Linked DNA regions of Homo sapiens: region 2 is linked to region 1. The links come from fine-mapping of genetic effects on gene expression. A gene starts in region 1. The other region holds a variant in brackets. All regions are shown on one strand. Distances are between the middles of the regions. Region 1 holds the start of ZNF572 (zinc finger protein 572). Region 2 overlaps SQLE (squalene epoxidase).

Region 1 (4,395 bases):
CAGGTGAGAATTATTTATTACACAACAGATGAGGCTTATTTATGAATTGTATATGGAAGGTAAGGAAAGGGAAGTGAAAAGAAGGGCTTCTGGGTTTCCATATAACTGGATGGATGGTTGAAAGAATATTGGAAGAGAAACAGGTTTATTTTGTTTTATTTTGTGTTTATATGTGTATATGGAGAAGAACAGTGAGAGAGAAGACAGATTATGATTTTGATTTTTGACATTTTGGTTTTGAGGTGTTATTGAGACTTCCTGTATGAGATGCCAAATAGACCATTGGTTATGAGTGAAGAGCTCAGACATGTAGCTTGGGCTGGAGAAGTAAATTTTTGAGTTGTCTGCCTAGGTGGTATTTGAAAATGTGGGAGTGGATGAGATTGCCTAGGCAGAGAACATTCAGTGATAAGAGGAGAGGATGATCTTGAGGGACTGACTTGGAAAAGAGACTAACAGGACTGACTAGAGATGTTGGAAGAAAAGGAGGAGAATGTGATGTCACCTCAAAAGAGTGTTTCTAGAAGACGAGTCCGTAGCCATATCAAACCTCCTGAAAAAGGACCCGAGAACTAAAAATACCAGTTGCACTAACTAACATCATGGAGGTCATTGGTGATGCTAGTGATTTTTTTGTTGTTGTTGTTGCAGGAGAAATGTTAAGGTTAGTGGAAAATTGATGAAATGGAAACATTGTGAGTAAAAAGAGAAAAGAAAAGCTGAGGGACTATTTGGGGATGGGGGTGGAGGGATGGAGAGTTTAGTTGGTAGTGCGAAGTTTCCAAGAAGATAGGTAGGAAAGTGAGTACCAGTAAAGGGCTTATTAAAATACCAAAGAGCCCAGCACTTTGGGAGGCTGAGGCGGGCAGATCATGAGGTCAAGAGATCAAGACCATCCTGGCCAACATGGTGAAACCCAGTCTCTACTAAAAATGCAAAAATTAGCTGGGCATGGTGGCGCACACCTGTAGTCCTAGCTACTTGGGAGGCTGAGGCAGGAGAATTGCTTGAACCCGGGAGGCAGAGGTTGCAGTGAGCCGAAATCCTGCCATTGCACTCCAGACTGGTGACACAGTGAAACTCCATCACAAAAAAAAAAAAAAAAAAAAAAAAGGTCACAGAGGGACTCTGTATTGTAACAGGAGGGAAGAAAGAAAACGGCAGGGTGCAGACTTGAGTAGATTTCTGTTTGGTAGAGGTGAGATGAAGGGATTGGCTTCTATTTTCTCTGTAATGAAAGAGGAGGGATTAACTACTTTTCTAGGTGTTAATAAGGGTGCCTTGTAAACGAATTGTTTTATATGTGAATGGATGCCTTAGCTTTCTAACTTTCACAGGTAAGTAAATATATATCCATGTTCATAGCGGTGGGAACAGAAACAATAGGTGTTTAAAAATACTAGATTGAGGCCGGGCGCGGTGGCTCACGCCTGTAATCCCAGCACTTTGGGAGGCCGAGGTGGGCGGATCACGAGGTCAGGAGATCGAGACCATCCTGGCTAACCCGGTGAAACCCCGTCTCTACGAAAAATATAAAAATTAGCCGGGCATGGTGGCAGGCACCTGTAGTCCCAGCTACTCGAGAGGCTGAGACAGGAGGATGGCGTGAACCCAGGAGGCGGAGCTTGCAGTGAGCCGAGATCGCGCCACTGCACTCCAGCCTAGGCAACAGCGAGACTCCGTCTCAAAAAAGAAAAATACTAGATTGATTTTGATTCTAATAGTGATGATAATTAATCTGATGATATTCTGATGGCAAGGAAAAGTATAAGCTCCAATCAGGCCCCTGTCGTAAGCCGCCTGACAAGTGAGAGAAATGAGGTTCACAGTTGGCTGGTCACAGCACAGGGAAAGGAAATCCACCCCCACGCTCCTTCTGGTCCAGGACCCTAAGGGTTAAGATCAACGAGAGTGGGCCATCACTGTTTCCTAGAACGGCCCCAGCAAAGCCGCCGGGGGAGATGAGGGTAACTTCCTGTTTCTGCCTTCCGGGTTTGAGAGTTTAGGACCCTGGGTTGGTGGGGTCAGAGGGAGAGGGGGTACCTTCCTCCCGGACCGCTGGGGGTGCAGGGCGCCTTGGGTGTAGCACCCAGAACAGTGAGTTCCTTCTTGGGGGGAAGGGAGCCGAGGGTTGCGGGCTAGAGGAGTGGAAACAGCCCCGTCCAGGCTGCAGTGGACGTCCGGGAGAGAGTTCCCGCTGCTGCCAGGGGCGAAGGCCCAGCATCTCCCGCCGACGGGCCACCGTCATCCTTGTCCGCGGGGTCCCTTACGGGATCTTGTCGGCCGGAGACCGTCTGGTATCCTGGAACTTCACCCCCCAGCGTCTCCAACTTGTACCAGCCAGCGGTTCTTAAAACTAGGCTTCAGGCAGTGCATTTTCTTTGAAGGCTTTCTGATCAAAGCACGGCCCCACTCTGATCACATTGTTGCTCTAGAACAGTGAAAACACTCCTTCCCCGTGGAGAGACATCTTAATGGCAGCCTTGTATGGTCTTGCATTTGCCACCATTTTGCTGAGCCACTGTTCCGGGGGCTCCTTTGCTGCCAAATTTAATAGTATTTTAGTAGGGAAAATGGGGGAGATGGTAATGTGTTGCCCAGACTCTTGCTGCTTTTGTAAATACTTTGATAACAATATGTAACTTAGGACAGCAAAATATATAACTCCATTCGAACAACTCCACCCCCTTCCTTTTTTTGCATTCAGGTGTATGGTTTTTTCTCCCCCCCAACTCAAACACTGGGGATATTAGTAATGTAGACTAGTTTCACGTTTCTCTAGAACAAATCCCCACTTGCTGAGTGTGCTTAGGGAATGTCGACTCACTTTGTTAACAAGGTTTAGGAATGTAGACCTCTGTTTTAAAATGCCAGTATTCTAAATATTCTAAAATAAAGGGACTCTGAGGATTCTTTGCAGTTTGGGATTATGCCCAGCTCTGCTTCCTGTTCTAGTTTACGATAATAGATCAGAGGGTGAAAAAGGTCAGCATCCAAACAGACTTGGAGCTCAGTCCTGCTCTACCACTTTCTAGGTGACCTTAGGAAAGTTTCTTAATACCTTTCAAACTCATCCTATAAAATGCTGGTAGTTGTTCATACACTTCAGAGGGCTACTGTAAGAATTAAATGACAAATGTGTGCAAATTATTTCATTCACTACCTGGCACATAATAGGCAGTAATGGTGAAGATACAATATAAGTACATATACTATTTTTTGTTTTTAAAATGTGTGCATTTGTATATCCTTTTACGTCCTTATTTTTCTCCCAAATAATGATACTCTTTATATTCTGAAATGGATGCCAAAAGTCCATATGTCACTGCCTTCCTGTGATAGATCACATTTTCTTCTTTTTCTTTTTCTTTTTTCTTTTTTTTTGTTGAGACAGAGTCTTGCTCTGTCACCCAGGCTGGAGTGGTGCAATGGCACGATCTCGGCTCACTGCAACCTCTGCCTCCTGGGTTCAAGCGATTCTCCTGCCTCAGCCCCCTGAGTAGCTGGGACCACAGGCGCCCGCCACCACACCCGGCTAATTTTTTGTATTTTTAGTAGAGATGGGGTTTCACCGCATTAGCCAGGATGGAACATTTTCTAGTCCCTTAAAATAGGTTAGTGATTGTTGGCTCCAGAAGACGAAGTTTAGGCTGAAATGGATATTGTGAATATGATAGACTTAGGAACTAAGTGCAAGGAGGAAGAGGTCCCTCTTTAGCCTCCTTTTTATATTGCAGGGTTATTGGCTATAATTATTCCACCTCGGCTTTGTCCTAATTTCTCTTTACTGGTTATATAAATCCTAACTTTCCTTTGAAATTGACTTCAAAGGTTTCCTTCTGTCAAGACCAAGTTATTCTTTTGAAACTAAACAGGGTGCTTTTTTTCTTTAGCTGCTGCTTATGCCTTCATATTGATTCCTTGAAGTCTTTATAAGTTTTATTATTGGTGTCTTAAAAAAAATACTTTGCTTTTTAAAGTAAAAGTGTTTCTAAGCTACGTGTGGACAATGAGGATTAGTATTCTGTCTTTGAAGCTTGATCCTCAGACCTTTAATGTGAAGATTTACTTTTTTGCATTGTTATTTCAGGGTTAACCCTTAATTCTAAACACTTAGATCTGAGATAAGATTTTCTAAAAGGGCTGCTAAAAGTTGTGTTTCTTATTTTCGGTATGGTTCATGGAACATTCTATGCCTCCTATTGTTGTGTTGGAATGGTTGGGAAGGAAGGAGGAAGAATAAGCTTTAACAAATACCTCCAAACATAATTTATTTCCTTCCACAGGGTTTCTGATCTCTAACTTGGCTGTGATCATTGTGATGGAGCAAGAAAAAAAACTGTTGGTCTCAGATTCTAACAGCTTTATGGAGAGGGAGAGTTTGAAAAGCCCTTT
Region 2 (4,395 bases), 35 kb after region 1:
AAGAAGTTTTAAGCGTGAGAACCCTCATGTGACTGACACAGACTAAAGTATTGACAAAGCAAGTGAAGAAGCAAGTGGACTTAATCCTTTGGACTAAAAAGACTTGATATCCATGGAAGAAGAGTATGTTCACTGTATGAAAATGGAAAAATCGGCCAGGTGCGGTGGCTCATGCCTGTAATCCCAGCACTTTGGGAGGCTGAGGTGGGCAGATCACGAGGTCAGGAGTTCAAAACCAGCCTGGCCAATATGGTGAAACCCCGTCTCTACTAAAAATAAGAAAAAATTAGCCAGGCGTGGTAGCACGCACCTGCAGTCCCAGCTACTTGGGAGGCTAAGGCAGGAGAATTGCTTGAACCCAGGAGGTGGAGGTTGCAGTGAGCCGAGATAGCGCCACTGCACTCCAGCCTGGGCGACAGAGCGAGACTTGGTCTCAAAAAAAAAAAAAAAGAAAATGGAAAAATAGTCCCAAATATAAAGATTATAAAAATTACCTGTGATCTTTCTGACTAGAAATAATTACTCTTTCTTTTTTTTGAGACTGAGTCTCGCTCTGTCACCCGGGCTGGAGGGCAGTGTTGCAATCTCGGCTCACTGCAACCTCTGCCTCCCGAGTTCAAGCAATTCTCCTGCCTCAGCCTCCCGAGTAGCTGGGATTACAGGCACATGCCACCACGCCTGGCAAATTTTTGTATTTTTAGTAGAGACGGGGTTTCACCATGTTGGCCAGGATGGCCTTGATCTCCTGACCTTGTGATCCGCCCACCTTGGCCTCCCAAAGTTCTGGGATTACAGGTGTGAGCCACCGTGCCCTGCCAGAAATAATTACTCTTAACAGTTTGCAGGATGCATTCCAATACTTGTTTTCCCCTCTGTGTATGAATGTATGAGGGTATGTAAAGTTTCTCTGCCTATATTTTATTTTTTAACAAATTAATTTATTTTTAACAAATTAAGATGAAAATCCAATGTTACTTTTTAAAATATTTTTAAAATATTTAATGATTACTAATGATTACTAATGTAATCATTAGTAATATGTATTAAATGTTGATAAATTAGAAAATAAAAAACACACATTGGACACGTGTTTGCACACACATGCATGTCCAGTTTATATGGATAAACTGGAGATAAGGAATTTATATTTAATTTAAATTGCTGAAATGTGCTGCTTTAGAAATGTATTTTTTTTTATTCTTTAGTGCAAAGTTTATTGAAGGTGTTGTGTTACAGTTATTAGAGGAAGATGATGTTGTGATGGGAGTTCAGTACAAGGATAAAGAGACTGGAGATATCAAGGTGAGAAATACCAAATGTCACCTCTTCCTAAGAGATGTTGTTTTTCCTGCTTTTTCACTTACCCCTTTAAAAAAGTAGGCTTACCGGTTTACATGTTGAGTATCTCTTATCTGAAATGCTAGGGATCAGAAGTGTTTCAGATTTTTTATTTTTTTCAGATGTTTGCATTATACTTACCAGTTGAGCATCTCTAATCTGAAAATCTGAAATTTGAAATGATCTAATGAGTATTTTGTTTGTCACATTACTGCTCAAAAAGTTTTGGATTTCAGATTTTTGGATTAGAGATACTCAGCCTGTGTTATTTATCAAATGAACTGAGTTCTTTCTAAGCCATATGCAACAGGATGGGTTTCAGATTGCAACACATTGTTCTTTAGAGGACTTCAGAATGCTATGCAAAAAACATTTTAAACAGAACTAATGTGAATAGTTTTTGAAACAGTAATATACATCAGCAGAGAAGCAGAGGGGAACTAGCAGGGGAAAGAAGGCAAGATTCAACATAAAAGAAATGATTCAGATAAAATGAGCAATTTAACTCAGGTAATAGTAAGAGAATCTTTTTAAAAACAATTTATCCTTTTATTTTATTTTATTTTATTTTGTTTTA[T/C]TTTTTGAGACGGAGTTTCACTCTTGTTGCCCAGGCTGGAGTGCAATGGTGCGATCTCGGCTCACTGCAACCTCCACCTCCCAGGTTCAAGCGATTCTCCTGCCTCAGCCTCCTGAGTAGCTGGGATTACAGGCATGCTTCACCGCATCCGGCTAATTTTGTATTTTTAATAGAGACGGGGTTTCTCCATGTTGGTCAGGCTGCTCTTGAACTTCCAGCCTCAGGTGATCTGCCCACCTCAGCCTCCCAAAGTGCTGGGATTACAGGCGTGAGCCACCGCACCCGGCCAATTTTTCCTTTTTTTAAAAAAAAATTATCGTAGTAAAAAACATGTAATTCTGGACTGCTCCCCATAGGGTTACCACCTCTTAGAAATTGTCCTCTAATGAAGGTGACTGGAATGTTTTCTCTGCTCATACTGTAGTATTATAAATACATGTAGTCATTTGTACAAAAATTCTTCTAAGCCCTAGCTGCTGACTAAAAGCACTATATGAAGTTAGGAAATTTTAGAATGAAAGAATCTGGCTAGTCCCTTGAATTTGTAATGAGATTGACTGCTCTGTGTTACATGCCTGCCTTGTAGTTGTTTCCCCCATTGTCTGTCAAAGTGGAGAGTAATCCCAGATGGTTTGCATGGGAGGGCTACAAAGGGAGATGATCCTCAGGGACTCAGAGGAAGTATCTAAACACTGGTCATGCGTTATCTGAAGCCCACGTAACAGTTTCTTCAATAGTATTATCTTCAACTACTCTCTATAATGCTATCTGATAATATATCTAAATCTCTTCACGCACATTTTTTAAGAATGGCTTTTTTTACTGTGTGTTTCTGACTACTAAACTGAGTAGTCTTCATTTCTGTTATAGGAACTCCATGCTCCACTGACTGTTGTTGCAGATGGGCTTTTCTCCAAGTTCAGGAAAAGCCTGGTCTCCAATAAAGTTTCTGTATCATCTCATTTTGTTGGCTTTCTTATGAAGGTACTGTAGGAGTGTGTTATTGTAATTTCAATAAAAGAAACTTGAAATTTGAAAATTATTAAAACATTTTCTTTTTATTTGTTTTAGAATGCACCACAGTTTAAAGCAAATCATGCTGAACTTATTTTAGCTAACCCGAGTCCAGTTCTCATCTACCAGATTTCATCCAGTGAAACTCGAGTACTTGTTGACATTAGAGGAGAAATGCCAAGGAATTTAAGAGAATACATGGTTGAAAAAATTTACCCACAAATACCTGGTAAGAAATAGCATCTTCAGTTCTTACAAAGGCTGTGTCTAAAATAGGCCAGAGATAAGGATGGCAGGTGAAACATTCATCCAGTCAACCAGATATTCTGGAACTGAACTATTTAAACTAGCACTTAAAAACAGCAAAACAAACTCCCAAATTAATAAAAAAAAGTTTCGGGCCGGGCACAGTAGGTCATGCCTGTAATCCCACCACTTTGGGAGGCTGAGGTGGGCAGATCACCTGAGGTTGGGAGTTCAAGACCAGCCTGACCAACATGGAGAAACCCCGTCTCTACTAAAAATACAAAATTAGCCGAGTGTGGTGGTGCATGCCTGTAATCCCAGCTACTCAGGAGGCTGAGGCAGAAGAATCGCTTGAACGGGAGGCAGAGGTTGTAGTGAGCCGAGATCGTGCCATTGCACTCCAGCCTGGGCAACAAGAGCGAAACTCCGTCTCAAAAAAAAAAAAAAGTTTTGATATGTTTTTGTCACATAATAGCATAGTTTTTAGAATAATTGTTTTTATTGGCATATATGGTATTTTTAAAGGTAGTCTCTGGACACGAATCTGACTCTGAATTCTTTATCTCTTATACCTAAATATTTTTGTGCTTGGTTTTTGTAGTAATGACAGCTACCATTTCTTGAATGCTTACTATAAAGTGTTTAGCAAACATAATTTCATTTAATCTATGTAACCACTCTGTGAGGTAGGCATTATCATTATTCTCATTTTACAGATGGGAGAACTAAGGTTCAGAGAGATTAGTTAGCTCCTCCAAGTATAAACTATTAGTAATGGCAGAACCAGGGTTGATATCAGGTCTGTCTGGCTCATATGTGCCTGTTTGAACAGACATGTCCTGTCCGCAGAATGTGAGAATTGTAAGGGATCTTCAGGATCATGTTAGTTTTGAGTTGAATATAAAGGCTTCATGAGATTTAGATAGCTTTGTAAAAACATTAATAAAAATTACTTTTTCACAAATCTAAAGTTTTCATGGTACAGTTTTTAGGATCTTTTTTTGAGAATGGGATGATATAGGAAAGAAAAGTAAAAAAAATTTAAGAATTTTGATAAAATTGAAGGGAAACCCTCATTGTCAATTATGATATGATTAGAGTAATAGGAAACTATTTTTGGTATGAGTACATTTTGTTTAAATATTCCGTTTTTTTCAAGTTATTTTTTAAACTAAGTGAAACCACTTTAGTAACAAATTATTAACAGAAATGAAGTGAAA

The links. PIP is the estimated chance that this variant, and not a neighbour inherited with it, causes the effect. A credible set is the group of variants that fine-mapping cannot tell apart.
Region 2: its variant is the best candidate, but not a certain one, in a credible set for the expression of ZNF572 in whole blood (INTERVAL, PIP 0.86).

The regions. Positions count from the first base shown.
Region 1 is chr8:124,971,320-124,975,714 of GRCh38, forward strand. ZNF572 (zinc finger protein 572) reads left to right here and starts at 1,976. Exons shown (of 3, transcript NM_152412.3): 1 at 1,976-2,097; 2 at 4,287-4,395. The coding sequence starts at 4,322. RefSeq lists an enhancer at 1,919-2,078.
Region 2 is chr8:125,006,186-125,010,580 of GRCh38, forward strand. It overlaps SQLE (squalene epoxidase), which reads left to right. Exons shown (of 11, transcript NM_003129.4): 4 at 1,206-1,302; 5 at 2,786-2,899; 6 at 2,987-3,158. Among named protein-coding and RNA genes, the nearest start is that of SQLE, 9.9 kb to the left of the region's middle. The variant T/C (reference allele first, on the strand shown) is at 1,916.